Linked DNA regions of Homo sapiens. The protein of the gene in region 2 interacts with the protein of the main gene of each other region in a biochemical or structural test. Each region holds a gene or a part of one and is shown on either strand. Other genes may lie near its edges. The genes, in order: UBE2G2, UBA6 and UBE2O.

Region 1 (10,302 bases), on a different chromosome or scaffold from region 2:
AAATGGTTTGGTTACCCTTTGGGAAAGAAGTTTGACCATTTCCACTAAAATTACATATATATTGACTCTAAGACCCAGCAATTCTACTGGGTCTTATGTTGCCATAGACTTTTGTGTGAATGTTCATAGTAGCTAAATTCGTAATAGCCCCAAACTGGAAACAACCCAAATGTCCATTGATATGGTTTGGCTTTGTGTCCCCACACAAATTTCATCTTGAATTGTAATCTCCAGGTGTTGAGGGAGGAACCTAGTGGAAGGTGACTGGATCATGGGGGCAATTTCCTCCATGCTGTTCTCATGACAGTGAGTTCTCATGAGATCTGGTGGTTTTATAAGTGTTCGAAAGTTCCTCCTTCACTCTTCTTTCTTGCCACCTTGTGAAGAAGGTGCTTGCTTCCCCTTCGGCTTCTGTCATGATAAGTTTCCTGAGGCCTCCCTAGCCATGTGGAACTGTGAGTCAATTAAACCTCTTTCCTTTATAAATTATCCAGTCTCAGGGAAGTTCTTATAGGAGTGTGAAAACAGATGAATACAGTAAATTGGTACCAGGGGTACTGCTATAAAGATAACCTGAAAATGTGGAAGCAACTTCAGAACTGGGTAGTAGGCAGAGGTTGGAACAGTTTGAAGGGCTTAGAAGAAGGAAGATGTGGGAAAGTCTGGAACTTCCTAGAGACTTGCTGAATGCTTTTGACCAAAATGCTGATAGTGACATGGACAATGAAGCCCAGGCTGAGGTGGTCTGAAAAAGAGAAGAGGAACTTCTTGGGAACTGGAGCAATGGTCACCCTTGCTATGTTTCAACAAAGAGAATGGTGAGATTTTGCCCCTGCCCTAGAGATCTGTGGAACTTTGAACTTGAGAGAGATGATCTGAAATTGGAACTCGTGTTTAAAAGAAAGCAGGGAATAAAAGTTTGAAAACTTCGCAGCATGACGGTGCAATAAAAAAGAAAAACCCATTTTCTGGAGAGAAATTCAAATAAGTAACAAGGAGCCAAATATTAATCGCCAAGACAATGGGGTAAATGTCTCCAGAGCATGTCAGAGATCTTGGCAGCAGCCCCTCCCATCACAAGCAGGGAGGCCTAGGAGGGAAAAATGGTTTTGTGGGCCAGGCCCAGCCCCGCTGCTACTCTGTGCAGCCTTGGTACTTGGTGCCCTGTGTCCCAGCTGTTCCAGCTCCAGCCATGGCTAAAAAGGGCCAAGGTACAGCTCAGGCTGTTGCTTCAGAGAGTACAAACCCCAAGCCTTGGCAGCTTCCACGTGGTGTTGGGCCTGTGGGTGCAAAGAATTCAATAACTGACGTTTGGGAACCTTCACCTACATTTCAGAGGATGTAGGGAAACGCCTGGATGTCCAGACAGAAATCTGCTGCAGGGGCAGGGCCCTCATGGAGAACATCTGCTAGGGCATTGCAGAAGGGAAATGTGGGGTTGGAGCTCCCAGAGTCCCCACTGGGGCACTGCCTAGTGGAGCTGTGAGAAGAGAACAACCATCCTCCAGACCCCAGAACGGTAGATCCACCAAGAGCTTTGCACTGTGCACCTAGAAAAGCCAAAGACACTCAATGCCCACCATGAAAGTAGCTGAAGGGGGTGGGTGTGGGAGGGCTGTACCCTACAAAGCCACAGGGGCAGAGCTGCCCAAGACCATGAAAGCCACTCCCTGTATCAGTGTGCCCTGGATGTGAGACACGGGGTCACAAAGGAGACCATTTTGAGCTTTAAGATTTAATGACTGCCCAGCCGGATTTCGGACTTGCATGGGGGCCTGTAGCCCTTTGTTTTGGCCAATTTCTTCCATTGGTAATGGGAGTATTTATCCAATGCCTGTATTTCCATTGTATCTTGAAAGTAACTAACTTGCTTTTGATTTTACAGGCTGCTAGGCAGAGGGGACTTACCTTGTCAGAGATGAGACTTTGGACTTGGACTTTTGAGTTAATGACGAAATGAGTTAAGACTTTGGGGGCCTTGCTGGGAAGGCATGATTTGTTTTGAAATGGAATGGTTTTGAAAGGAACATGAGATTTGGGAGGGGTAGGGGGAGAAATGACATGGTTTGGCTTTGTGTCCCTACCCGAATCTCACCTTGACTTGTAATCCCCAAAGTGTTGAGCGAGGAACCTGGTAGGAGGTGACTGGATCATGGGGGCAGTTTCCCTCATGCTGTTCTCGTGATAGCGAGTTCTCAGGAGACATGATGGTTCTATAAGTGTGTGGCAAGTTCTTCCTTGGCTTGCTCTTCTCTCTCCTACCGCCTTGAGAAGAGGTCTGTTTCCCTTTCTGCCATGACTATAAGTTTCCTGAGGCCTCGTCAGTTATGCAGAACTGTGAGTCAACTAAACCTCTTTCCTTTATAATTACCCAGTCTCAGGTAGTATCTTTATGGCAGTATAAGAACGGACTAATGTACCGATTAACCGTTTAATGAACCCACAACCTTGGGTAGAACAAGGCCTACCCAAGGAAAAATTATTTCACTCAAAATACCACTAACACCTGCTGAGAAGCCCTGATCCAGGAAACAGAGGTCCTGAAGAGACCTAAGTGCTGTCACAAGGGTGTGCTGACACCCAGCAGTGAGAGAAGGCAGAGTGGCAAGGAGGGGCCAGCAAGGCAGGCCAAAGGCAAGTGCTGGCCCCAAGGGCCAAGTGCATTAAACATTTCAGGGGTGGGTGGGAACTGAATGTGAATGAGGTCAAGTACCAAGCCGACTAAGACCTTGGATTTCACAAGCCACACCCTGATGTTCTCCCTTTGTGTCTCTTCATGTGGAGTAGATCAGGAGAAATAACCACAGAACCTAATTTGCTAGGCTTCCTACACCCAGTCATCTAAAATCTAGTCCCATTCTTGTGTCTCAAGCCAAACCGCCTAATTATAAGAAAAAAATAACAGATTACGGCAGATAGACTGTAAACTGCTAAGCAGGTGGGGTGCGGGAGAAACACAATGTCAGTGGGCAACTAAGTAGAGGCCTGGCAGCAGAACACACAAAAGCTTTACAAATCACCTTCGTGGGACCATGAAGAAGAGCTCGTACCAAAGAGAGCTGGCTTTATTCTTCATCTGGAGTTCCCCTTTGGCACTCCCCTGCGTGACACCCTCCCTTAGGGAGGGGAAAGGGTGGTCTAAAAACTGCAGCTCCAGACCTGCTCCTGGCAATGCAGGCTCAGCACAGAGACCTGCCCGGGTGTGCGCTGGCCTTCCCGCCAGCTTTGTTATTCAACAGTGGCCTCTACTGGTCAATAAAGAAGTGCAGCAAATGAGTTCAGAGGCTGGAGGGAATGGTTCAGGGCACTTATTTTTTCCATTTTGTTTTTTGCTTCCAAAGCATATACACGCGTACACAAAATAATATACAGTTTCATGTTTACTGATAAGAAACAAGTTCAAAAAAAGAGACGAATCTTGGTATCAGGGAAATTTTCAGAGGCCATTCCTTGCCACTTAAAATAGTGGCTTAACAAATAGCTACCACACAAAGTGAAATATAACCTTTGACCCAGCAATTCCATTTCTAGGAATCCATCCCACAGATAACATTGGTGAAGATAAAAAATGTATACACAGGCTATTCATTTCAGGACTATTTGTAAAAACAAAAAGAAATTAAAAAGAACTTGAGTGTCTATCAACAGAGGACCAGTCAAATTATGATACATATACCAGTGGGGTACTTTGCAGCTATAAATACCTCTACATGCTAGTACAGAACAAACTTCAGGACATATTACATGAAAAAAAAGAAGGTGGAGAAAAGTGTGTGACTAGGGCCTTTAAGAGGTAATTAAAATTAATGTGGTCATTAGGGTGGACCTTAATCCAATCTGACTAATATCCTTTTAAGAAGAGATGAGGACACAGGCATAGAGGACAGAGCCTCAGAAGAAACCAGCCCTGCCCTATCCTTGATCTTGGACTTCCAGCCTCCAGGACTATGAGGAAATACATTTCTGTTGTTTAAGCCGTGCCCAGCCTGTGTGGTAGAGCAGCCCTAGCAAACACAGTGCTGAAACAACTGCACTGCCATTTACAAATAATTTACAAATAAACCTTGGCCTTTATCTCATACCATATGGAAAACTTTGATATGGATCCCAAACCTAAATACAAGAGCTGAAACTATAAAACATCTAGAAGAAATCATAGGAGAAAATCCTACTGCCACCTGATGTTTGGCAGTTATTTCTTAAATATAACACAATAGCAAGAAATATTTTAAAAGTCAATAATTGAATTTCATCGAAATAATAAAAACCCTTCTTTTTTTGTTTTTTTTTTTTTTTGAGACGGAGTCTCGCTCTGTCACCCAGGCTGGAGTGCAGTGGCGTGATCTCGGCTCACTGCAAGCTCCACCTCCCAAGTTCACGCCATTCTCCTGCCTCAGCCTCCTGAGTAGCTGGGACTACAGGGGTCCGCCACCATGCCCAGCTAATTTTTTGTATTTTTAGTAGAGAGGGGGTTTCACCGTGTTAGCCCGGATGGTCTCCATCTCCTGACCTCGTGATCCGCCCACCTCAGCCCACAAAGTGCTGGGATTACAGGCGTGAGCCACTGCGCCCAGCCAAAGAACTAAAACTTAAGAAAATCAACACAATTTTGAAAGAAGCAAAGACTCAAGTCACTTTATCTAAAAAGACATATGGATGGCAAATAAACACGTGAAATGATGCTCAACATCACGAGTCTTATGGAAATGCAAATGAAAACCTCAGTAAGGGCCGGGGGCTGTGGCTCATGCCCGTAAATCCCAGCACTTTGGGAGGCGAGGCAAACTCCTGAGGTCAGGAGTTAGAGACCAGCCTAGCCAACATAGTGAAATCCCGTTTCTACTAAAAATACAAAAATTAGCCAGGTGTGGTGGCACGCGCCTATAGCCCCAGCTACTTGGGAAGCTGAGGCAGGAGAATTACTTGAAGCCAGGAGGCAGATGTTGCAGTGAGCTGAGATCATGCCACTGCACTCCAGCCTGGATGACAGAGAGAGCACCTCAAAAATAAAAAATAAAAAAAAATAAATAAATAAAACAAAACCTCAGTAAGACTGCTATACACCCAATAGAATGGCTAAAATTTTTAAAACTGGAAGGGCGCAGTGGCTCGCAGTTGTAATTCCAACACTTTGGAAGGCCAAGACGGGCAGATTGCTTGGGCCCACGAGTTCGAGACAAGCCTGGGCAACATGGCGAAACCCTATCTCTACTAAAAATACAAAAATTAGCTAAGCGAGGTGGCATGCAACTGTAATCCCAGCTTCTTGGGAGGCTGAGGTGGCAGGATTGCTTGAGCCTAGGAGGCAGAGGCTGCCATGAGCCATGACTACACCACTGCACTCTAGCCCGAGTGACAGAGTGAGAACCTGTCTCAAAAAAAAAAAGAAAGAAAGAAAGAAAAAAGAAAACAAAAAACAACTGGCCACGCGAAGTGTCAGCAAGGAGGTGGGGCAACGGGAACACTTAATACACTGCTAGGGAAATGTGAACTAGAGGAAAACTGGCCGTTTCTTTAAAAATTAAACACACACTTCCCATTATAACCCTGGTTATTTACACAGGAGAAATAAAAGCATATATCCACAGAAAGACATGTACATTTAGGACATGCACACAGGGGGAAGATGGCCATGCGAAGATGGAGGCAGAGATTAGAATTACACTACCTCAAGCAAGAGAATGACAATAAACGCCAAGGATGACCAACAATCACCATTAGCTGGAAGAGGCAAGTAAGGGTTCTCCCCTCGAGCCCTCAAGAGGAAGAATGACCCCATCAACACCTTTATTTTAGATGTCTGGCCTCCAGAACAGTAAAAGAATAAATTTCTGTTGTGCTAAGCCCCCCATGGGCAGCCCACTTCTACCTGGGTCTATCTCTGACACTCCTAGGAAAGGCTGGATGATGAATGAAGACAGAACATCAAGACAAGACAGCAGTTTACAACAATTGAGTTCTTTCCTGGCTCTCCTTTTTTCCTGTTTATGAACCTAGGCAAAATCATCTTGTCTGTTGCTCAATTCCATAAAATCTGTAAAATTAGGGGGCTTGAACAGAATCATAGCCAAGGTCCCACCACCTCTGAATTTCTGCAGTTATATGACTACTCCCAAATACAATAAAGTGTGCATGAACATCTAACCAAATTTATCTAAACCCCTTCTATGTAGAGATTGATTCTGTCAAGTCCACCTTTACACTGGAATGTGCTACCTTAAAATACGTTATGAGGACAAACTAGATGTTAAGATACACACACAAAAAAAACCAGTAAATGATACACAAAAAAAACCCACTAAATTTTATCACATTATTAAGATACAGGAAAAACAAAGTCCCCTCAATAACACACTGTATTCATCTTCTGTCACTGCTGTAACAAATTACCACAAATTTAGTGATTTAAAACAATACTCATTGATGATCTCAGAGTTTCCAAGCGTCAGAAGTCTGGACACAGCATGGGCCAGCTAGTTCTCTGCTCAGAGTCTCACCAGGGCTGCCACTCCAAGTTCATTGAGGTTGCTGACAGAATTCACTTCCACGGGTCTGTTGGTCTGGGATCATTCTCAGCTTCTTGAGGCTGCCCGCCTTCCTTAGGTCATGGCTCCTTCTTCCATCTTCACAGCCAGCCACAGAAGGTAGAGATCTTGTCATATGTTGAATCTCTCTGACCACCCCCATCCTGCCTTCACTGACTGCTTTTGAGCCTTATGTTATTATTGGATCCTTCACGGTAATCCAGAATAATCTCCCACTCTTTAGGTCTGCTGATTACTAACCTGACTTGCATCTCCAAAGTCCCTCCACCGAAGTACTAGAAAGTGCTTGAATAACAAGGGCATGGGAATCTTAGTGAGGTATGTTTAGAGTTCTACCTTCTACACATAGTCCAAAATTTCATGTTAACATGTAAAAACACACAACACACTTCCGTGACAAACCTTCGGAAATCAACCATTATTTAGGTCTTATTACTGCAAACTAATTGACAATATAATTGAAATAACAGATGAAGCTTCTGTCAGGACAATAAAAGGGAGAACATATCTTTGCTAATGCAAATATCCTTAGAAAATGCAAGTTCAACAATGCAAAGACTGGCCTGAAGCAGCAGCCTGAACTTAATTTCCTATGCAGGGGTTTAATGATTTTCTTCTCAATAAAAATGAGAAGGCCGGGCGTGGTGGCTCACGCCTGTAATCCCAGCACTTTGGGAGGCCGAGGCTGGCGGATCACGAGGTCAGGAGATCGAGACCATCCTGGCTAACACGGTGAAACCCCGTCTCTACTAACAATACAAAAATTAGCCGGGCATGGTGGCGCGCGCCTGTAGTCCCAGCTACACGGGAGGCTGAGGCAGGAGAATGGCATGAACCCGGGAGGCGGAGCCTGCAGTGAGTCAAGATTGCGCCACTGCACTCCAGCCTGGGCGACAGAGCAAAACTCCGTCTCAAAAAAAAAAAAAAAAAAAAAAAAAAAGAGAAAATACCTGCTCACAGTCTAGCCTAACCCTAGAAATAGGGCTAAAATAAAACTAAAACAGAGACACAAACACAAACCAGGATACCAAGAAATGGTAGGTGTTCACACATCTGACCCACCAGCCAGGTTTCCCATGAGGACACAGAAGTAATAGTCCCCCACATCCAACCCTCTGTTCGAGTATGAACATTGTCAGAATCAAAATGGAGTCACTTTCGCCAAACCCTGACAACATAGAGGGAGGTCAAGATGAAGACAGAAAAATCAGCCAGGTGTAGGGGCACATGCCTGTAGTCTCAGCTACTCAGGTGGATTAAGTGAAAGGATAGCTTGAGCCCAGGTCAAGGCTTGCAATGAGCTGTGGTTGTGCCACTGCACTCCAACCTGGGTGACAGAGCAAGACCCTGTCTCAAAAAATAAATAAATAAATAATTATTATTTGCCAAAATATGCTTAATTTTTATTGCTAAAAAATGCTAACAATCATATGAGCCTTCAGCAGGTCATAATCTTTTTGCCGGTGCAGTCTTGCCCGGATATTGATGACTGCTGACTGATCAGGGTGGTAGTTGCTGAAGGCAGGAGTGGCTGTGGTAGTTTCTGAAAATAAGACAACAATTAAGTTTGCCACAGGGACTGACTCTTACTTTCACAAAAGATTGCTCTGTAGTCTGTGATGTTGTTTGACAGCACTTTACCCACAGTGGAACTTCAGTCAAAACTGGAGTCAATACCCTCAAACCCTGCGGCTGCTTTATCAACTAAATTTATGGAATAGTCTCAATCTTTTGTCATTTCAACAATGTTCACAGCATTTTCACCAGGAGTAGATTCCATCTCAAGAATCACTTCTTTGCTCATCTGTAAGACTCAACTCCCCATCTGTTCAAGTTTGATCATGAGATTGTAGCAACTGAGTGACATCTTCAGGCTCCACCTCTAATTCCAGTTCCCTTGCCATTTCTACCACACCTGCAGTTGCTTCCTCCCCTTAAAGTCATCCATGAGCATTGAAATCAACTTTTTCAAACGCCTGTTGTTGATATGGTGACCTCCCATGAATCACAGATGTTCTTAATGCCATCTAGAATGATAAATCCTTTCCAGAAGACTTTTGATTTTCTTTGCCCAGATCCATCAAAGAAATCACTTTTCATGGCAGCTATGGCCTTATGAAATGTATTTCTTAAATAAGTCAAAAGTGCTCCCGGATCCATGGGCTGCAGAATTGGTGTTGTGTTAGCAGGCACAAAAACATTTATCTCCTTATACCTCTCCATCAGAGCTCTTGAGTGACCAGGTGCACTGTCAGGAATAGTATTTTGAAGATAATCTTTTTTTCTGAGCAGTAGGTCTCAACAGTGGGCTTATATTCAGTAAACCATGCTGTACACAGATGTGCTGTCATCCAGGTTGTTTTTCCATCTCTAGAGCTCAGAGTAGATTTAGCATAATTTTTAAGGGCCCTAAGATTTTCTGAATGATAAATGAGAACTGGCTTCAACTCAGTCAACTTAAAGTGACCGACATTAGCCCCTAACAAGAGTCGCCCTGTCCTTTGAAGCCAGTCATTGACTTCTCTCTAGCTGTTTACGTTGTATATGGCATCATCTCCTCCCAATACCGTATAAGGCTATTTTACGTACCTTGTAAATCTATTGCTTAATTTAGGAGCCACTTTCATCTTGATCTTAGCTAGATCTTCTGGAGACCTTGCTGCTTCACCTTGTGCTTTTCTGTTATGGAGACAGGTTATTTACTTCAATCTCATGAACCAACCTCTGTTAGCTCCCAATTTTTCTTCTGCAGCTTCCTCACTGCTCTCAGCCTTCATAAAACTGAAGAGTTAGGACCTTGCTCTGGATTAGGCTTTGGCTTAAAGGAATGTTATGGCTGGTTTGATCTTCTATCCAAACCACTAAAACTTTCTCCATATCAGCAGTAAGGCTTTTTCACTTTATCATTCATTGTGTTCAACAGAGCAGCACTTCTAATTTCCTTTAAGAACTTTTCCTTTGCATTCACAACTTGGCTAACAAGAGACCCAGCTTTCAGCCTATCTTGACTTTCAACATTCCTTCCTCACTAAACTTAATCATTTCTAGCTTTTGATTTGAAGTGGGTAGAGTGCAACTCTTCACTTCAACACTTGAGCCCACTGTACAGTTACTATTGGCCTAATTTCAATGTTGTTTTGTCTCAGGGAAGAGAGAGGCCGGGAGAGAGATGGGGAAACAGCCAGTCAGTGAAGCACACACAACATTTATTAGGACTACCATCTTTTATGGGCATAGTTTGTGATGCCCCAAAATAATTACAATAGTAACATCAAAGATTACTGATCATAGATCACAGTAATAGATTAAAATGTAAGAGAGAGACACGAAGCGAGCAAAAATGGTGCCAACAGACTTGCTTCCATGCAGGGTTGCTTGTAAAAAACTTGTAAACTTGTAAAAAATGCAAGATCTGCGAAGTGAAGCTCAATAAAGCAAAGCGCGCGGGAAACTGAGGTGTGCCTTTATGTTCTGCTTTAGCAGACACTAGGTGGCGAGCGTTATTTGAACGTTTACAGGAGGCCCTGTGTATCTGCGGCTGCATATCCATGGATTCGACCAACCAGGAATACAAAATATTTGAAAAAAATAACAATAAAAAATGACGATTTAAAAATACAAGTAAAAAAAATCAGTGTAACTATTTGTGCAGCACTTACATTGCATTAGGTACTATAAGTAACCTTGAGATGATTTAAAAGTTATGAGAGGCTATGCATACATTAAATGCAAATACCACGCCACCTTATAGTAGGGA
Region 2 (10,302 bases):
GCTGGGCAGAGGCGCCCCCACCTCCCGGACGGGGCAGCTGGCCAGGTGGGGGCTGGCCCCCACCTCCCTCCCGGACGGGGCGGCTGGCCGGGCAGGGGCTGCCCTCCACCTCCCTCCAGGGCTGGGCGGCTGGCCAGACGGGTGCTGCCCCCCACCTCCCTCCCGGACGGGGCGGCTGGCCGGGTGGGGGCTGCCCCCCCACCTCCCGGACGGGGCGGCTGCCGGGCGGAGACGCTCCTCACTTCCCAGACGGGGTGGCTGCTGGGCGGAGGGGCTCCTCACTTCTCAGACGGGGCGGCAGGGCAGAGACGCTCCTCACCTCCCAGACAGGGTCGCGGCCGGGCAGAGGCGCTCCTCACATCCCAGATGGGGCGGTGGGGCAGAGGCGCTCCCCACATCTCAGACAATGGGCTGCTGGGCAGAGACACTCCTCACTTCCTAGACGGGATGGCGGCCGGGAAGAGGCGCTCCTCACTTCCCAGACTGGGCAGCCGGGCAGAGGGGCTCCTCACATCCCAGACGATGGGCGGCCAGGCAGAGACGCTCCTCACTTCCCAGACGGGGTGGCGGCCGGGCAGAGGCTGCAATCTCGGCACTTTGGGAGGCCAAGGCAGGCGGCTGGGGGGTGGAGGTTGTAGCTAGCCGAGATCACGCCACTGCACTCCAGCCTGGGCAACATTGAGCACTGAATGAAGGAGACTCTGTCTGCAATCCCAGCACTTCGGGAGGCCGAGGCTGGCAGATCACTCACTGTTAGGAGCTGGAGACCAGCCCGGCCAACACTGCAAAACCCCGTCTCCACCAAAAAAATATGAAAACCAGTCAGGCGTGGCGGTGCGCGCCTGCAATCGCAGGCACTAGGCAGGCTGAGGCAGGAGAATCAGGCAGGGAGGTTGCAGTGAGCTGAGATGGCAGCAGTACAGTCCAGCTTCGGCTCGGCATCAGAGGGAGACCATGGAAAGAGAGGGAGAGGGAGACCGTGGGGAGCGGGAGCAGGAGAGGGAGAGGGACCTAAATTTCTTTATCAAAACAGACTTTCTTTTCCCCCAAATTCTAAATTAAATCCTCCTATGGTGATTTTCATAACACTATGTACTTTTTCCTTCATGGCACTCATTTTTACTGATATGCATATTTATTTAATGTTTGTGTCCTCACTAAATCATTCATCCAGGGACCATTTACTTTCCGTCATTGTATCCTCAGTGCCCAACATATGATGTCATTTAGTAAATATTCCTTAAATAAGTAGATGAATGAATGACTATAAATGTGTTCACCTTACATCTTTATATGACTCCTCAATGTTAGGGTGTAGAGCAGATATATTAACAGGGGAGAATTTATCAGTTGAAAAATGTGAAAAGTATGTAATCTTGGGCCAAAGAGGGGAAGAAAATAAAACTTTAAAAAATAAAAATTTGTAGAATATAGGTATTGTAAGTGTTGAGAAAGAAGATTAATATTATTTGGGATAAAGAAAATATTGAGAAGAGATAGTGTGGTAGAACTTGTAGTTAGAAAATAACCAAAGAAGAAATATAAAGCAAGGGAAAAGGAGTAATATTGTTAGGAATTAACCTAGAGATAAAGGTTAAGAAAGCCCCAGATTTAGGGTACTACTAGATGTATATGTATATTGCAGAATAGGGGAACAGGAATGATCCACTGTTTGATAGTAGTATATCTGTTTTCCTAAAATACTGCATTCAAGAAGTGATCAGTATGTGAAATGGTCAATAGAAAGTTGTAGGTTGTCCTTTGGTTACATTGTTATTGCTCACTTTTTTGTTTTTTACTTGCTGTCTTTTCAAATAGTCGTTGCTTAGCAAATCTAAGGCCTCTTTTAGATTCTGGAACAATGGGCACTAAGGGACACACTGAAGTTATTGTACCGCATTTGACTGAGTCTTACAATAGTCATGTAAGTGAATCAATATTTTGAAATAGATGTCTTTTTTATATCTTGTAATTTTTGTCTTAATCAACAATTTGATTTAGCTTTCCTAATCCTTCTGATTTTGCTCTGCCAATGATGTTCATACATATGTGCATGTACATTTTTTAAAATATAATTGAACTTTTTTTTAATTATCAGAATTTTGTGTCTGGTGTTTCTGGAGCATTATTCTTCTGTTTACTATTTATTTCTCAGAGCTGCTTAGTTTTCTAATACCCTTTGAGTTTAAGATTGTTTGATAAGAACAAACTATTAGATTGAGACTAGAACTGTCAACAAAGACATAAAATTTTATTCACTTGCTGAGACAAAGTGAGTCATTTTAGATTAGGTAAACCAATAAACCTAGGCAAAATGTACTCTATAATAGAATGTGGATTTCTTCAATGGTACTTTATCCACAAAAAACGACTTAGGTATTTACCATTTATTTAATACATGCTTTCTGCAAGAAACCTCAAGCATTGAGGACATATTTCTGCTCCCAGATGTTTTTCTCCATGGAAAAACTCATGCTTTTCTGAGCACTATACTGGGTATTCCTGAATTACTTTTCAAAGCGGGGCAGTGTTATAAAACTTTAAATGTCACCTTGATTCATGAGGAAAAAAATGATTTATAGATGATGGTGTGTCATGAGTACTACATGGTGCTTTAAATGAGTACACAAATAATAAATAAGATTCATGTTTGGCATTACATAGCTATTAACAAATAGGTTAAATGTCAAAAGAATTAACTTCTCTTATTGCCTAAGAGAGAGAAGATATAAAAATGTCTGGTTGGATTTTATTTATTTTTGGATTTTTAATAGGCTTAAAGCTCAAAACTAGATTAAATCAATAAAAATTGGTCATTGCTTCCCCTTAAGTACCTGTTGTCATATTTTATAAATTAGCGGGATCCCCCAGAAGAGGAAATACCATTTTGTACTCTAAAATCCTTTCCAGCTGCTATTGAACATACCATACAGTGGGCAAGAGATAAGGTAAAAGTTCCTTTTTAAATTTATTTTCTTTGAAGTGAGAAAGAAGATATTTCTGACTTTAAACAGACTTCTATTTGTAATTTTTTTTTTCTTTTCTCTGTTACAGTTTGAAAGTTCCTTTTCCCACAAACCTTCATTGTTTAACAAATTTTGGCAAACCTATTCATCTGCAGAAGAAGTCTTACAGGTAAAAATCAGTAAATTTTAATACAAACTTAACACTTTGTGTCAGTGTAATCTTATTTTCAAGTCATCTACAAGTGATTTATTTTACCTCCATAAAGAGTGATTGTATATAAAAAATGAAATGATACATAAGGAATCTTGAAATTAGGTCACAAATTATCATTTTGGTTGTTTGAACTACATGGAATTGTCGATATTTGAGCATGTTCGACTCACAAAACAGCAATTCGTATGGTGCGAGCTAATAAAGATATGATAATTATGATAGAAGGGCTACAAATAATAAAAGGGCTTTTATTAAGCCCTTTGGAAAGAAAAAATTGAGGTAAGTTCTAGTTAAAATTTCATGAGGGAACAATAATCTCCAAGACTTATTACTCTTATAGTGAAGGCAACTTTAAAGATGTTTTCTCACTTTCTTTTAATCTTTTGCTAACAAGGCCCACTTTTTAGTATCAAATATTCATAGCACTTATAGTGAGTACATATATTATAGTACTAATAACTTACAGCTAGGAAAATATGAGGATAACTTGTAAGATAAGAAATCAGAGTTAAAATTTTGTATGCTATCTCTTACCATTCCCCTTCTCAAACAGAAAAGAAAAGAAAGGTTAAAGAAGAAGGAAGGGAAAAGGAGCTTGAGGTGAAAAAAGAAAAGCATAAAACACATGAGTTGACACTTCAAACTTAGGCTAACTTTTGGTGAGGGATGTGTATATGTTTGTAATTGGAAGTATGTTGATTTTTTTTTTCTCTCCCATTCTAGAAGATACAGAGTGGACACAGTTTAGAAGGCTGTTTTCAAGTTATAAAGTTACTTAGCAGAAGACCTAGAAATTGGTCCCAGTGTGTAGAATTAGCAAGATTAAAGTTTGAAAAATATTTTAACCATAAGGTAAGTATGCATTGTGAGACATTAAGAAAAGGTCTGATCTTGGCTTATTTAGTTATTAACAAATTAATTTCATTGACCTGAAATGTGTATTCTTTCTTTTGGCAAGCTTTTCAGAAATTAGTAGTAAGTTAAATGAGAACACATGCTAATCTAAAAGAAGTTTGTTCAGAATAGAAGAAGCAAGAAACTGAGAAAATAGGGACATTTAGTCAGAAATTTTGCTGAGATTTTGCCATTTCCACCCATATCTGATAATCACATTTTATGTCTGTTTCCCCATCTGTAAAATAGAAATAATAAATTTGTACCTAATACATAAGGTAGTGGTAAAGATAAAAGGAGGTAACACAAAGCATTTAGAACAGAGCCTGGCACATAAAAAATTACTAAATATTAGCTGTTATTCTTACCTCCAGTTAAATATAGTTGCTGGAATGTGTGTTGCCTTCTCTTTAGTCTTTCCCTCTCTTTAGGATCTTAAGTTCATCTTCCTTAGAAACAACTTTAAAAAAAAACAAAAAAACAGGGTTTCCCTATGTTTTCCAGTCTGGCCTGGAACTCCTGGGCTCAAGTGATCCCTGCCTCAGCCCTTAAGTAGCTGAGGCTGCATGTGCACGCCACCACACCCCACTTAAAAAATATTTCGTTTATACTTCTTCTTTTTACTTTCAACAGAGCTCTACTTCTTGGAAAAGTGGTCTGTACTACTCAATGTTACCACTTCTTTACCCAGTAAATTTGACTTCTTTGCTCATTACTCTTCAGATTGTTCTTAACATGGTTATCAATGACCCGTTTCAAAAATCTAAGGAACTCTTTAGTTCTTATCTTCTGTGCATTTTTTTTAAACTTTTTTTATAATGAAAAATATTCAGCCATAGAAATGTAGAGGAAATAGTATAATGAACCCTAATGTAATTGTCAATTACCTATCACCCAGGGTTAGCAGTTATCAATTCATAGATAAATCTTGTTTCATCACCATTCCCGTTCATTCTTACCTTCCCCCAGGTGATTTTGAAGCAAATCTCAAACATGTATCAATTTCAAAAATACAAAGTACTGTGTGTTTTTTCTGGTTTTGTTATTTAAGTACTAGCTCTTTAAAAAGAACAGAATGACATGTAAAATATGCCATTTATATAAAAAGGAGTGAAGTAATCTACATTTGTTTGCTGTAGATACCACCTCCCAATAAACCTACAAATAGTGATAGAAAATGATATTTGAATTTTTCATTTATGAGGGACATTGACAGGAGAATGGACAGATGGAATACAAGGGTGGTAGGGAGACTTCACTGTGTCTCTTTTAATGTGTTTTGATTTTTGAATCATGTGCATATATTTACTACACACATTTTTTAATTTTATTTTTTAATTTTTCCTCAGATAATATTAAGTAGTGGGTGTCTTTAATTCATTTTTTTTCTTTAGGCTCTTCAGCTTCTTCACTGTTTCCCTCTGGACATACGATTAAAAGATGGCAGTAAGTATAAATGTTGAGAATAAATTTTAATGACATTTATTACTGGCTACATACATTGAAAATGATATTTGTATCTTTTTGCCAGGTTTATTTTGGCAGTCACCAAAGAGGCCACCCTCTCCAATAAAATTTGATTTAAATGAGCCTTTGTAAGTATTTATATTTAGTTTTATGTATCCTTCATTATATATTTCTTTACTGTAAATTCCTTAACTGTACATTGCAGAGTGAAAACCTTAGGCTCTTTAATGTTAAATTATTTCATCCCTGTTCATTTAAGAGTTAACAAGTCATTCTGACCAAGAAAGCCAGCCACAACCCTTCCCACACAAATGTGAATCCATTCATTTACATGGTAAATAACCTCATTATTTATAATAAATATCTAAGGTGAAACCAAAATCACCTTTTTTACTTTATCCATAAATTAGTAAAATGACAATGTGTTTTTACATTTAATGAAATCAAATATAAGAATCTTCAGTTATATGGAGGAACAAATAATTACTACTGAATAACTCCCTAAATCTCAAATTATTTTCAGAGGAGTTGGTCTTTGTGTGAATACCTGGAAACACTATATTAGATACACATTAGATTCACACTTGTGTGTATATGTATATTTTTTCTATTTTTTTAATTTAGTTTTTATTCTTTGAAAGAGACAAGGTCTCACATATGTGGCCCAGCCTGGTCTTGAACTCCTAGGCTCAAGCAATCCTCGCACCTCAGCTTCCCAAGTAGCTGGGATTACAGGTGCATACCACCACACCCAACCTTATGTATATATATTTTTAAACACTTAGCTTGCATTCACTAACCTTCCTTTCAGCAGATAACTCTATGCTTAATTTTCTCATCTGGTGGTGGTTTTAGGCTTCCAGTCACCTTATGCTGGACTGCTTCTTCTATAAGACTTTCTTTTTTTGTTTTTAAATAAACACATTTACTTAGTTTGAACTTGATATATACTCATTAAGACCAAATGTATAATATTTCTTATGACTTAAAATGAATTATTGTTCACTGGTCTGAGTTTTCTGGTTCTGTCCACTCACTCCTCTTCCCAAGGTAGTCATGATCACTACCTGAATGTTAAGTGTTTTTGAGAATAACTGTTTGATGTTTTGTCTTTTATAACTTCTGTAGTGTTTTGGTGTAGACCAGAATATTTTTGTCTAACTTAAAAAAAAAAACTTGAAATAATAATTCTGTGGTTATATTTCTTCAAACTACATTTAAAGGCTATAGTTCATAATGAGTTAAATATCGTCTTTAAAACTGTACATTCAAATTTTGCTTTATTTTTTAATTTCAAAAGGCACCTCAGTTTCCTTCAGAATGCTGCAAAACTATATGCTACAGTATATTGTATTCCATTTGCAGAAGAGGTAAGATATTCTTTAAGCCTTAGCAAGTGATGCAAAACCAAATTAGAATTAGATGACTGATGCACTAATTGCATCAAAACATGTTTGTTTGTTATAAGAATCACTCTTTTTGATACAGAATTTTTATTGTATTTTTACCCATACTAACATAATGGAAGCTAAAAGCTCATTGCAGTATTGCTAAGTAGAAGTCGGATTTTTCCTTCTGAATTGAAGCAGTGAAACAGCATTATTTGTTAAAAGCAGTTAAACTTTGTTTTAAGAATATTTATAACCTGCTTAGCAGCTTCAGTTATCCTAGTTATTCTAAAAAGCCACAGCAAACCATTTCATCGCAATTTTGAAATACTGCGTAGAGATTTTCTTTGTTAACATTTGTTTGTTATTTTGTGATAATTTATGTGCTTTTCAGGAAATCTGAAAATGCTCCCTTATATTGACATTTCTTACTTTAGCATCATACTCATTCTCTTAAACATCATCTTCATTGACTAACATCTAAAGAGCCTCATACGGTTTTGAGAGGCATCTCTTTTCTTCACAAATGCATATTCTAGCTAAGTAAATTGCTGTACTTTTAGGTGGGCTAAATAGAGAAACATGAATCAGATCCCATAATTAACACTGGCTGTTTTGGATTCAGATAACAATATCTGTTTTAGATTAATCCTTTTTGGAATTCATACAAATAAACTGTAAATATTTGGTAAAAATAGTGGCATTCAGTCTGATATTCTTTTTGGGAAAATCAGTGGTAATTTAGTGGTGAGTGTGGTAATTGACCTCAAAAGCACTAAGTCTCAGCCTTTGCCAAGCAACTTCTCAATGACAAATGTAAATACAACCCATAGCTTTAAATTCATATAAGTTCATCTTTAACCATTTAAATATCTCCCTCCTTCTTAAGGTATGAATTCCATTTACTTATTTTACTTATTGAGTATAACTTACTTCAGGGAACTTTGTAAAACATTAAAAACATAAAACATAAAGCTAAGGGAATTAAAACTGACTGATCAAGTCACTCAGTTTTATATTTACAACCAGTCCTAAAAATGCCTTTTAAAAAATTTGCAGAAGGACTAAAATTTCAAGTTTGTTGACTAATAAGTACTTTTTTACCCCTTACCTTCTCCTCCCCCATAACCTTTATGGGGGGATATTTTTATAGAAATAAAGATAAATGTCTCAAATGGATGTCTACATATTCAGATAATGAAATATTCATATATTGTAATATGATTAAGGACCTTTTGTAGGATATTTTTAGCTTTAGAATTTAGAAGAATATGTTTGTTGGTAAAATTACTTTTTTAAAAACAGGACTTATCAGCAGATGCCCTCTTGAATATTCTTTCAGAAGTAAAGATTCAGGAATTCAAGCCTTCCAATAAGGTATGTTTAAAAAATCATTCATTCAGCAAATAGTTTGGGAATTTGGACTTGTACCAAGTCCCATTCTAAACCTGGAGAATATCACAATGAATGGTTCTTGCTCTTGCTCTTGTCAGTGCAACTTGAGTTTGAAGTAGATTTGTCAGAATCACAAACTGTTGATTAATACTAATTTTATTCTAGTGTGGAATTTTAAAAAAGATCAGTATAGACTTAGATTGTATGAGCTACTCAGTTAATATTTTTTTATGCCCACTATATCATTGTGGGTATTAAAAATTAGATATATTGGAGTTCTGTCAGTGAACAAGATACATAAAGATCCCCTGTTGTTATAGAGCTTACATGCCTTTGTGAGAAGATAGATAATAAAATACATACATGAATAACATAATAATACCTTCTGAAGGAATGTATAAAATACATTGGACCAATGTATTTTGGGCGGAGAGGGACTATAAACAAAAATGCTAATAAGTACATAATATTGCAGTGTGAGTGTAAGTGCTAAGAAGGAAAAATACAACAGGGAAAAGAAAGAGTGATGGAGCTGGTATAATTTTATATGGGATGGAAGTGAGGAAAACCTCTGATAACAGTAACATTTTAGCAGAAACCTGAAGGAAGTAAAGGAATAGTGAAAGAGCAATGTAGGCAGCAGAAATAAGTGCAGAGAAAGGCCTTGAAAAGCTTTTAAGGTCAGGACTCGTCTAGAAGAGAATATACAAGGGGAAGAGTCTTAAATGAGGAAATTACAGAGATAGTTGGGGCTATGATAAAGAAAGAATATTTTCTTAGTTGAAATAAGAAGCTAGCTTAGTAGCTCAGAGTGAAGGGGATAAGAAGATAAAGGAAGTAAGAGCAAAGAAAAGAAGGTATGAAATAATTGTCCAGTGAAGTGGAAGAGTCACTTAATTAAAAGATGTAGTAAAACGCAAGACAATACTGAAGATCCACTTAATGTTAATCTGCTTAATGTATCCTACTAAATGTGGCTGGAGAAAGGGTAATGATCTTTTCTCCAGCCAGAATTTAGCTGCTTGGGTGGTATTATACTGTATAATGGATGGAAAATTGGATATAACTAGGGTTGGGATTTTGCCAGGCAAATACATTGAAAAAAAAAAAAAAAAGCAATAGGGAGTATTGGTAAAGATGGAACATGAAATTTAGGCAATGTAAATAAAAAAGTTTGAAAACTTTTTTTTCTTTTTTACATGTTCAGTATATGCCTTTCTTGTATGTTCTCTAAAAATCATCCACAAAATTTAGCTATACCAGAAAAGGTGGAGTAATGACCACCTCCCTGCAAAATTCAAGAAAGAAGTGACGTGTGCAGTCTTTCGTTCTGCGTTTTTATTTTAGGAAAAAAAAAAAAGACTTGTAGGGCAGTTGATTTTGCCCAGGTAGATGGATTTGCAGAACACAATGTTTATGACTTATAGCCTATAAAGAATAAAAATAGGGTGAGGATAAACAGAAATCCCAAAGAAGGTTCCCAGCCCATGTTTCCAAGGGCAAAACTAGAGAGAAGCCAAGGAAAAATGCTTTAACTTTACTTTCCGTTATTGCTCTTGCTTCGGTATGTTTTCTGGCTTGCATTGCTTCTATCTGTGTTAAAGTCTGAGGGTAATAAATTCTCCTGAGCAATTTAACTACAGTTTTAACATGAACTGTGGGCTTTTTCACAACTCCCTAAAGGAGCTCACACCGAAGTTTCAGGTATGGTACTGCTGGTTACAGATGTCACAGCCAAAAATATCAACTAGCCATTCAGACAAACAAAAGTTTCTCCTTCCTGGACTCCTTAATATTTCTTAATTTTTTGTAATAATGTTTAATTTGTAAAACGATGATTTGAGTGTATTTTTAAATAAATATTACTTCATGATAATGAAGCTAATTTCTTGGTTTGAGAATATTAATTTCCGTGCCCTCAGGGAATATCTAATAAGTAATTTCTTAAGGTTAAATTACTTGTGGTATGTACTCCCTT
Region 3 (10,302 bases), on a different chromosome or scaffold from region 2:
AAAAAATTAGCTGGGCATGGTGGTGCATACCTACAGTCCCAGCTACTCAAAAAGCTTAGATGGGAGGATCACTTGACTCCAGGAGGCTGAGGCTGCAGTGAGCTATGATCACACCACTGCACTCCAGCCTGGGCGACAGAGTGAGACCCTGTCTTTTATTTTTTGGCTTATGTGTTTTTTTGAGATGGAGTATAGCTCTGTCCCCAGGCTGGAGTGCAGTGGTGTGATCTTGGCTCACTGCAACCTCTGCCTCCCAGGTTCAAGCGATTCTCTGCTTCAGTCTCCTCACGCCCGGCTAATTTTTTGTATTTTAATAGAGACGGGGTTTCACCATGTTGGTCAGGCTGGTCTCGAACTCCTGACCTTGTGATCCGCCCACCTTGGCCTCCCAAAGTGCTGGGATTACAGGCGTGAGCCACCACGCCCGGCCAACCCTGTCTTTTAAAAACAAAACAAAACAATTCCTCTAAACACCTGCTCCAACCCTTATCCCCAACAAGGCAAGTAGTACAAGCAGTTTCAAGCTGAAAGGCAGTTCCAGGCTGGTGAGGCCTGGGGAAGGGGGGATGGTCTCACAACCAGAAGCTGACAGTGAGGGTTTGAACTCCATGGGGGAGGTTGGGAGACCACCGCTCCACAGACATCTGGAATCTGTGCATCTATTTGCGTGCATCTGTGCACACACGCGTGTGTGTGGGATCTCAACTGACAGGGCAATGGGCGAGGTCAGTGATGAGCTGAGAAGCAGGGAAGGCAGAGCGCTAGCTGGGGCGAGGGAACCTCTGCACATGCTCTTATCGGTGCCACCCTGGGAGCCTCCAGGGAATGCACTACTTTTCTTCTCCTGAGTGAGATGTGGGGAAAACAGAACAAAACAAAAAATACTGTTTCCATCTTCCCTCAGCAGAGCTGAGACAGGCTAGAATTTTCAAAAGGAATTTTCCTACAACCCAAGAAAAAACCAAAAGCGTTATTAAGAATCTCAAGCAGCACTGGGCCTTAGGACTCTGCCTAGCCCTGTTCCAGGGTTGTGGCTACTCCGGGCCCATCTCAACAGCATCCCGCTTGGCTGCTCTCAGGATCGCTTGGCTGCTCTCAGGATCCCTGCTCTTTCTTTTCTTACTCCCTTCCTTCCAGGACAGGGCCAGAACTGGGGCCTCAGACTCAGATTCAGAGTCTAGCATAGTGCTTGGCTCGATGCACAGGCCCAGTAAGGGACTGCGGAGTCAACAAGGTGGCAGGCAAACGGGCTTGCCTGTTCCGGAAGGATGCACTCAGCGCTGCCTCAGTAAACATGACTCAGAGACACTAGGCCCCGTCCACGAACAGAGGAGTGGGAAAATGGAATGTGGTGTGGCCACATGCTGTCATCCTATTTTGCAGGTAAAAAGGAAGAAACTAGATCATTATGAATCAACACAGGTTGGTCTTAAGCAAATTAGAGATGATGTGTACGACGACATATTCTGTGTGTAAACAAATCATACAAAATATTATGTACTTATGGTGATACATGAAAATGTAAAAATATTTTTTTAGTGTATAAATAATGTAAAAGTATAAAAAAAAGGTCATCCGTTTGGAAGGAGACCCACTAAACTTCCAACAATCCTCTGGGTGTGGGAAGAGGCCTATGATTCGGGGAGAAAGGGAAGTGAGGTCTGGTCAAAGGCAACTTTAGCTCTTCCATTTCCACTCAAAGGATCTGTAATGTTCTAATTTTTCAAAAAGAAAAGTAGGCTTGAGGAGTAATCATAATATAATTAATTTCAAAGTAATTTTTTTTTTTTTGAGATGAAGTCTCGCTCTGTTGCCCAGGCTGGAGTGCAATGGTGCGATCTTGGCTCACTACAACCTCTGCCTCCCAGGTTCAAGTGATTCTCCTGCCTCAGTCTCCCGAGTAGCTGGGATTACTGGCACCCGCCACCACATCCGGCTAATTTTTGTATTTTTAGTAGAGACAGGGTTTCACCGGGTTGGTCAGGCTGGTCTCAAACTTCTGACCTCAGGTGATCCACCTGCCTCGGCTTCCCGAAGTGCTGGGATTACAGTCGTGAGCCACCGCACCCGGCCTATTTCAAAGTAATTTTTTTTTTTGAGACAGAATCTCGCTCTGTCACCCAGGCTGGAGTGCAGTGGCGTGATCTCGGCTCACTGCAAGCTCCACCTCCCAGGTTCACGCCATTCTCCTGCCTCAGCCTCCAGAGTAGCTGGGACTACAGGCGCCCGCATGGTGGCGGGAGAGTTTTTTGTAATTTTTTTTTTTTTTTTAGTGGAGACGGGGTTTCACTGTGTTAGCCAGGATGGTCTCGATCTCCTGACCTCGTGATCCACCCACCTCGGCCTCCCAAAGTGCTGGGATTACGGGTGTGAGCCACTGCGCCCGGCCGAGAAAGTAATTTTTTAAAGGAGGGAGGAAAGAAAGAACCATCTGGCCTGGACACACGGCTGAGTCAGCCCTCACCTGACTGAGCCTGTGACCGCCCCTGTAAAAGGTGGGTGGGTGAGTGTCCTCGCAGGTGCCAGTCAGCCCCGGAGGTTTGGGGACCCAAGGTTGGTGGCCTCTTGGGCACTGGGTGCCCACACAGCACATCTGCACCTGCCCATGCCAAGCCTACTTGCCATTCTATCTTCAAAAGTCTTGACCATGATGCCCTCAGGCAGTGAGGTAGCCAGCAGCGCCATCTCCTTCCGCACTGTGCTGAAGAACTTCTTGGCTTCTGGAGGCTGGAACTCAATTTTCTTAAAAGAATGATTTGCTAGAGGGGGGAAGAGAATAGTCAGTCCCTCATGGAGAGGCCCTGGAGCTCCATCTGCCAACCTGGCTGGACAGGTGAGCACACCCACAGACTTCCCACTCGCCGCTGCTGGCCTCAGCACTGTGACCACACAGGGAAATGGTTTGCCCTGGGGCAGTAGCTGGGGTCTGGCGAGGGGACTAACCACCCTGCACCCAGATCTGGTGACACAAACAGGAGCCCCGAGAAGGCGGGGGAAGGCGAAGACCAGGCAAGGGCTGACTCACAGGGTGCAAACTCCAGTACGGAGAAGACCTCGCCCTTGGCGCTGGTGAAGGTGACGCCAGGCTTGCCGCCACACTGCTGGCACAGCACCGGGGTTTCGCTGGGCCACTCAGCCTTCACAGGTGACTGCCCCTCGGGCTTGTCCTCCTTGCGCTCTACGTCGGGCACTGCTTCCATCTTCTCCTCCTCTACAATGGCCACATTGTCCAGGGTCTTCTTGAGGTTTTCCTGTAGCTTCTTGATGTCATCCAGAAACTTCTTCTCCCGAGTTGGCTTCTCAGGCTCCACAGTCGGAGAGGTGGGCGAGCCCGTCAGCAGCTGCTCCACAGTCATGTTCTTGAGGCTCTCCAGGATCTTGATGGCCTCTTTCAACTCCCGGAAGCTCTTGGGTGGCCCGTCCTTGCCAGCCTTCTCCATCAGCCCGGCCATGGGGGCAGCCATGGCCACAGCCCCCTGGACGGCAGCTGTGGCTGCCTCTTCACTGATCACCACTCCCTTGTCCTCAGGGGCCACCGGCTGCTCCAGGGGTGGGATGGGGGGCTCCTCTATCTTGGGGTGCTCGTCCTCCACCAGCCCATTGTCCGTCTCCCAGCTGTCACTATCATCTTCCCATTCATCCGAGGATGCCCCGCTGGTGCTGCCTTCTACCGAATCGTAGTCTGACTCCTCAATCTCAGACTCTATGTTGTACAAGTGCTGGGGGCAGAAGGGAAGTGCCAGGGTAAGCAGACAGGAAGTCACCTCCCCACCACTAAGGAGGAGCTCTGGGGATCCCTGATCCGCACAGCTGATGGCGACTGGGCTCATGAGGCCTTGGCAACCTCATTCCACCCTTTCCCTGACCTCTGCTCTGGCTTTTGCAGTCCCTAGGTCTCTGGGAGAGGCCCTTCACCTGTCCCACCCTCCAGCTGGACCCAAAGCCCCAGCCAGTGGTCTGTTCCAGCCTCTCCTCCTGCTCTGTGCACTTCGTCAGCATCTGTCCAAGGCGTTAGGGGACCTTGGCAGGCCCAGTCCCACACCTGAAAAGCGCAGGGTCAGCTAATGATGCAGCCAAGGAGGCCTGTGTGGGGAGCTGGGAACATATGACAAGAGGGGACATGTAGAAGGGCCGACATATCCTGCTGCGTTCCCTGGAATGGCCGTTAAGGTGATGGGGCAAGCCATTCCCGCCCCCACTCCTGCCCCCTGTGTGGACCAGGAGAGGAGAGCTGGGCTGTGTGGCTCCAACCAGGAGGCGAGGGAAGGAGAGCCCGTGTAGCCCTTCTGCTCAGGACCCAGCAGGTGGGGCTAGAACTGGGTCGGCTCTCTCCTTTCTCTCCTTCTCTGTTAGAGCTTTCTAAAAAGGGTGGTAGGAAAGTCTCCATCTCCTTTTAGGAGGGAACTTGCATTCTTCGTAGCATAGTGAGCTGACAATCCAGGAAAATCCTGGAGGTTTGTGAAAGTCTACATGCACCCAGAGATGGACGTGAAGAGATTGCTGGGAGAAGCGAGGCTGGTGGGCCAACTGCAGGCCTGCACCAAGGGCTGTGTGGAATGCCTGCCTTTCCCCTCACGCTTTCGCTGAGATCTCACCAGGAAGACCTGAGAGCCCATCTTCTGGCTACACGCCTGTGGCCCCCGGCCCAAGTTGCCATAGTCACAAGCTCAGCAGGGGGGTCTTGCCAGAGCCTCACCTGGGGCAGGATGATGGTCTTTGAGTTGTCAGCCCACACCACCTCCACCTTGCTGCTGACGTCCACACGGGCCACCTGGCCCACCGATGGCTGCTGGGCAAAGGGGACAAAGTCAGGGGGCCCAGCTCAAGCTCCAGCTCCCCAGCCCCTCCTGTGCTCTGCAGTGACTGACATCATGCCCACCTGGCTTGTGACAAGGAACTTAGCTCCTCTGGTAAATGTAACCAGCGGCAGCTCAAGAAGCCTGACCCCAGAAGGGAGGCAGGGAAACAAGTCCTTCTGCAGCTGCTAGTGCTGAGCGGCAGCTTGACTCTGGGGCAGCTGCCCTTCTGAGGACACTGAGCCCAGAGGACTTTCAGGTCTTGTCTCCTAGAGCCACCTGGTGGCAGCATCAGGGACTGCAGCTGGTGCACAGGGCAGTGAGCAGCCATCCAGAACTTGAATTTGAAGGCGTACCTCATCCTCCTTGTGAGGAGCCCCATCCTCAGTATTGCCGATGCGGATGACGATGTCAGTTGTACGGAACCTAAAGTCAGGGTGGTCAGCAATGTCGTAAACACTCACATCTTCCTCTTCTCCAATCAGCTGTGGCACAGGACAGGTTGTCATGAGCTAGGGGTCCTACACCCAACCCCAGAGCCCACCTGAAGCAAGCAGTAGGGGCTGCACACACCTCCACGTCGTCCCCACTCGGCCTCAGCTTGAACCACTTCACCATGCAGGTACGGCCGATGTGGTCCCCAGACTGTACCACACCGTAGACAGCAGGGTCTGGACAGCTCTGGACTAGGGAACCAGAGAAAGGGAAGTGACTAGCTAAGGGATCCCGGCTAAGGAGCCCACATCTCAAGCCAGTGCAGAGTGCAGAACCCTGACCTTCCCCCGTCTTGGAAGTGGTGAGACCCCTTCATGAGGGCAGTCCCCTTCTGGACCTCATTTTAGCTCTGACCCCAGATCCACTGCCCATTCTCCACAAGCCCCAACCCGGGCCCTCATTGGCGACCACCCTGCTGGCTGCCCTTCCAGAGCTGGCACTACCTCGCTTATCTACCACGAAGTCTCCAGGGCAGAACTCGTTGTTGTCCAGGTGGTGCACAGGGAAGAGGTCGTTGGAGCGGATGTTGCATTCCACGGAGCCATCCTGCCACATCACGTCGGCTGAGGTCATCGTGGTCACCACCTCCACTGCCACCCTGCGGGTGCAGGCCAGTCAGCAGGCCATGCAAACCCCACCCCCTCCGCGGAAAGGGCAGAGAGTCTTTCTGTCCCTTCCTGTCCCTGTGGGCTTGGTAACCTGAAACTCTGAATCCCAGGTTGGCAGGATGAGTCTCTGGTGCACAGGAAGCTCACCCAGGGTTCCAAGGCCACGCATTCTCTGAGAACAGGATCCACTTGGGAGAGCTCAGGCAAATGTGGTTCCAGAAGGCCAAGCTTAAGGCCACCACCATCCCACCCTCTGCACCACTCCTCAGTCTCTGCTTTCCACCAGGGCCTACCCCAGGCACCTACGTTGTCTCGGGTGGGAGCCCCGGAGCCACTACAAGGCATGCAGAGGTGTGTGTGCGAGCGCAGGCACGCACACCGAGGGGACGCGCACTCTGCCTGGCTTCACGCTGACGCCATTGGGGAGGGGCACAACTCTGAGTTTACCTGTCCCCTGGCTTGAAGTCTCGAGTGATTTTATTCTTCTTCCTCTTGTGTTTGCGCTTTAAGTTCTTGATGGACAAGGGGATGCTCTTTTTGCGACTCGTGCCGCTGCCGCTCTGGGAGGAAGTGGTGGAGCTGGCAGAGGAGGTCACCGAACTGGTGTCGTCCGTGTCATCAGCAGCCTCATCATCTGCGTCCTGCTCTGCCGAGTGCAGCCTGTCATCTCTGCCTTCTTTTAGCAGGAATGGGGGCAGCTGCTCTCCTGCCTCGTGGGGCTCCTCTGCACCCTCGTCCTGCATCTCCACTGGACTGGCAGAGCCATCGGGCGTCTCCTCAGGGCTGGCAGACTCCGCTTCGCTCTTGGTTTTGGATTCCCCCTTCTTGTCTGGGTCTTCCATGGAATGGTCCCGGGAACACTGGGTGTCTGGGGAGCATGACATGATCCGCACAACCTGCTTCTTCAACAGGCGCTTCACCTGCAAGGGCGGAGCAGAGAGGACAGGGCTGTGAGGTGCACCTGGGCAGGCCTGGCCCTAGGCATCTCAGGCTGGGGGGATGACAGCTGTATACACCTGAGTAGCCGGCAAGGGTCATCAGGGCTGCCCCCCAAGGCCTAAAGCACAGACTGTCCTTCTTGGCCATGGAAATGGCTCAAGGCCAGTTCCTCAAATGCCCACCAATCCCCAACCCCAAGGACATACCTTCTTGGCCATAGAGCCCTCCCCCTGGGCGCAGTTTTTTTCTGGACATTCCCAGGCAATCTTGGCTGGCTCTACCTTGGCTGGGAAGACATACAGACAGCGCTCCCCAAGCTGCCGCTGAGCATGGTCAAAGCATCCGAGACGCTTCACCCTGGTTGGGGAAGAAGTGGGGGTGAGCTGGGCTGGACTCCTGGGAGGCCAGCAGTGTTCTTAAGCCTCCCCAGGCATGTGACCAGGGCCCAGAGCCCTGTCCCACGCGTGCCCCTGGGTTGCTGGCAGTAAGGGCATGCTTACCTGCCTAGGTTTTCCTGGGTGATGACAGAGGGTGGGGGGCTGACGCTGTCCGTGCCCCCTGGACAGAAACTCTTGGTAATCCATGTAACTTTCAACTCTACAACCTGCACCTGGGGATGGCAGGTGGGACACGCCAGTCAGGGCAGGCTCTGACAGCACTCTCTTTAGCCAGCTGCCCAAAGCCCACTTGACCTCCAGAGCAGGAAACTGATCTTCCTAGTGCAGCACCAAGTACAGACACATCAGAGCAGGCCCCAACTGTAACCACGGCCCCCACCCAATGCCCAGGACCAGTGTCACTGCTCATACCAGCCAGGGGCCACTGGAACTGCCACTTGCCACCCTCCCACCTTGCTCAGCCTGTACAGGCTGGGCTGGGGCACATCTGTCTTTTGGTCACTATGACCAGAGCCTGGGTTCCCTTTATCCCCAAAGCCCTTTGAGATCAACAGGGTCCAGATGCTGAGGAGCGGGGCTCAACCCTCAAGAGCAGGAAGGAAAGGGGCAGCAGCTCAGCTCCAGGGTGTGGAGGTCAAGGACTCCATCTCCTACCCTTGGGCCCGGACCCACCTCTTCCACCACCACTCGGAACTTGCTCTTGGTGCTGAGCACGGGCTTGACACCTGACAGCCACTGGACGCTGGAGAAGATCTTGGCAGGGCCAATGAGCACCTGGCCTGGGTAGAAGCCATAGGAATCATCGAAGAAGAGACCCTGCGGGATGTGGGGCCAAAGGAAAGTCCCCGTGAGCGGTGTCTCCATGGGTGACCATGCTCTCCACGCCTGTGCCCGCTGGCTGCCCACCTGCAGAAGCCCACTCACACACACGCCCCACACGCCCTAAAACAAGTCCTGTGGCTCCACATCAGCACTTCCCAAACCCTGGGTCCGCAGAGGTCATCTGGCGCCCTTGTTCAAACATAGGTGATGCATTCCATGCTCCTTGGTCAAGGGCTCATACTCTGAGGAATAAGACTCCAGAGAGCAGTGGTCCTGAAACCTGTTTGCTCACGCACCCCCTGTATATCTACTTGTTTGCTGTGTGTGTCCATGTACTATTGTAACTAACACATCATCCTGTACTGAGAGAGACAAAGTGGAACCTTAAAGGATGAGAAAAAAAAGCTACCAAAAATGCAAATAAAAGTTCTAATACTGCCGGGCGCGGTGGCTCACGCCTGTAATCCCAGCACTTTGGGAGGCTGTGGGCAGATCACCCGAGGTCAAGAGTTCGAGACCAGCCTGGCCAACATGGTGAAACCTCATCTCCACTAAAAATACAAAAATTAGACGGGTGTGGTGGCACACGCCTGTAATCCCAGCTACTCGGGAGGCTGAGGCCAAAGAATCACTTGAACCCGGGAGGTGGAGGTTGCAGTGAGCCGAGATCGCACCGTTGCACTCCAGCCTGGGCGACAGTGAGACTCTGTCTCAAAAAAAAAAAAAAAAAAAAAAGTTCTAATACTTTCTGCCTATACCCAAACTTTTAGACCCTCTGGCGCGCACCCGCCCCTTTTCTAGGAAACCGCTCTGTTTAGCTGGGTCCAGGTCTTTGCTACGAAGTCCTCCTTCCAGAGGACTGAGCAATCAGAGAAGGGTGCTGGCCTGGATGGAGCACACTACCGAGTCGCTGACGTGCGGGCAGACGTCGTAGAGCTTGGCGCCATCTTCCGTGTTCATGGAGCACCTAAAACAGAGAACAGAGGTTTGGTCTCCACCAGGGGACACAGTGAGTACCAAAAAGTTGCGATTCTGAGATGCCAATGCGCCCACATGCCCTAAATAGCACAATTCGTCTTCTACCATCAACTCAGCCCGAGGTAGTACAAGAAACTCTCCCACAACGAACAAGACCCCAAGTGCCACTGGAGTGCTTGCTCAGCACCATCACAGTGCCTCAAGTAAAGCATCAGCCTCTAGCAGATATCCTCAGTGAAAACGTTTCTCCCCATGCCAGGACAGATCAGAAACTGAGCAACAGAAATAGGCCACGGCAGATAAGGAGAACGGTACAGGGTTAGGCCCTGGATGCCTGCAACATCTGTCACTGCCCTTGATCAAACCTGTCATCACTGTCCCCAGGAGGAAACACCCTCCTCCTCCCCTCTTTCCAAGAGGCTATCCTTCCCAAGCCGATGGCTCTCTGGTGGTGAGACTCTACCTGGCGCCGTTGGATAGCTTCAGGATGATCTGGTTCTTCAAGTCGTAGACCTTCCCCAGCCAGCAGTCATAGGCAATGTAGTCCCCATACATGAAGGGCTGCAGACCAAGGAGGCAGGGGCAGTGAGACACAGCAGACAACGTTCATGTCCAGGGCACAGATTCCTCTATGCCCCACCGAAGACAGGATGGGGGAGGATCTAGACAGCTCACTGACTGGACCGGTTGGCTACTAGCCCTAAACAGCTGCTGCAGCAGGCCCTCCCTACAAGTTCTAGGCTGCATCCCAGCTGCTCTTCCCAGTGAGGAGGAAGTGGTGGTGGTGGTGGGGCTGCCTGGAGGGAACGGGGTGGGTGATGCAGGGGCAGAGAGGCCTGATGGCATCCATGGACATGGGACATCCATGGACACAGGACACCTGGCAAAGTAGGCTGTGGAGGTGGCAGGCAGAGGAGGCAGCCACACCACTGGGGGGTGGCTACATGGACAGTGCTCTGAGTAAATACGTTAACACATCAAGGATATCGAGAGCCAAGTCCCTCATTGTTGGAGAAGGTGCCCAGGTGTTTACTAACAGAAAGGGAGCAGGAAGGAGAAGAAGGAAGAGGAGTCTGAGGTGTTTAGGTGGAAGTGGATCTATCAGGATGAACTCATATATTTTATTTTACTTTATTATTATTTTTTTTAGAGACAGGGTCTTGCTCTATTGCCCAGGCTGGAGTGCAATGGTGTGATCTTGGCTTAATGCAACCTCCATCTTTGGGCTCAAGCGACTCTCCCACCTCAGTCTTCTGAGTAGCTGGG

Evidence for each region.
Region 1: the proteins of UBA6 (region 2) and UBE2G2 form a complex in vitro, tested with the Homo sapiens proteins (2 studies listed by BioGRID, with this or other methods).
Region 3: of the proteins of UBA6 (region 2) and UBE2O, one has a biochemical effect on the other in vitro, tested with the Homo sapiens proteins (one study listed by BioGRID).

Annotation. Positions count from the first base shown.
Region 1 is NC_000021.9:44,790,257-44,800,558, forward strand, and holds part of UBE2G2 (ubiquitin-conjugating enzyme E2 G2), read right to left. Parts: intron 1-10,302. UniProt on the Homo sapiens protein: Accepts ubiquitin from the E1 complex and catalyzes its covalent attachment to other proteins. In vitro catalyzes 'Lys-48'-linked polyubiquitination. Involved in endoplasmic reticulum-associated degradation (ERAD).
Region 2 is NC_000004.12:67,627,075-67,637,376, reverse strand, and holds part of UBA6 (ubiquitin-like modifier-activating enzyme 6), read left to right. Parts: intron 1-1,818; coding exon 1,819-1,924; intron 1,925-2,858; coding exon 2,859-2,948; intron 2,949-3,054; coding exon 3,055-3,135; intron 3,136-3,903; coding exon 3,904-4,032; intron 4,033-5,468; coding exon 5,469-5,520; intron 5,521-5,605; coding exon 5,606-5,669; intron 5,670-6,841; coding exon 6,842-6,911; intron 6,912-8,234; coding exon 8,235-8,306; intron 8,307-10,302. UniProt on the Homo sapiens protein: Activates ubiquitin by first adenylating its C-terminal glycine residue with ATP, and thereafter linking this residue to the side chain of a cysteine residue in E1, yielding a ubiquitin-E1 thioester and free AMP.
Region 3 is NC_000017.11:76,393,103-76,403,404, forward strand, and holds part of UBE2O ((E3-independent) E2 ubiquitin-conjugating enzyme), read right to left. Parts: intron 9,598-10,302; coding exon 9,500-9,597; intron 9,026-9,499; coding exon 8,962-9,025; intron 8,053-8,961; coding exon 7,909-8,052; intron 7,449-7,908; coding exon 7,339-7,448; intron 7,196-7,338; coding exon 7,045-7,195; intron 6,820-7,044; coding exon 6,347-6,819; intron 5,890-6,346; coding exon 5,735-5,889; intron 5,483-5,734; coding exon 5,370-5,482; intron 5,282-5,369; coding exon 5,153-5,281; intron 4,790-5,152; coding exon of another isoform or gene 4,787-4,789; coding exon 4,697-4,786; intron 3,720-4,696; coding exon 3,026-3,719; intron 2,760-3,025; coding exon 2,623-2,759; intron 1-2,622. UniProt on the Homo sapiens protein: E2/E3 hybrid ubiquitin-protein ligase that displays both E2 and E3 ligase activities and mediates monoubiquitination of target proteins. Negatively regulates TRAF6-mediated NF-kappa-B activation independently of its E2 activity.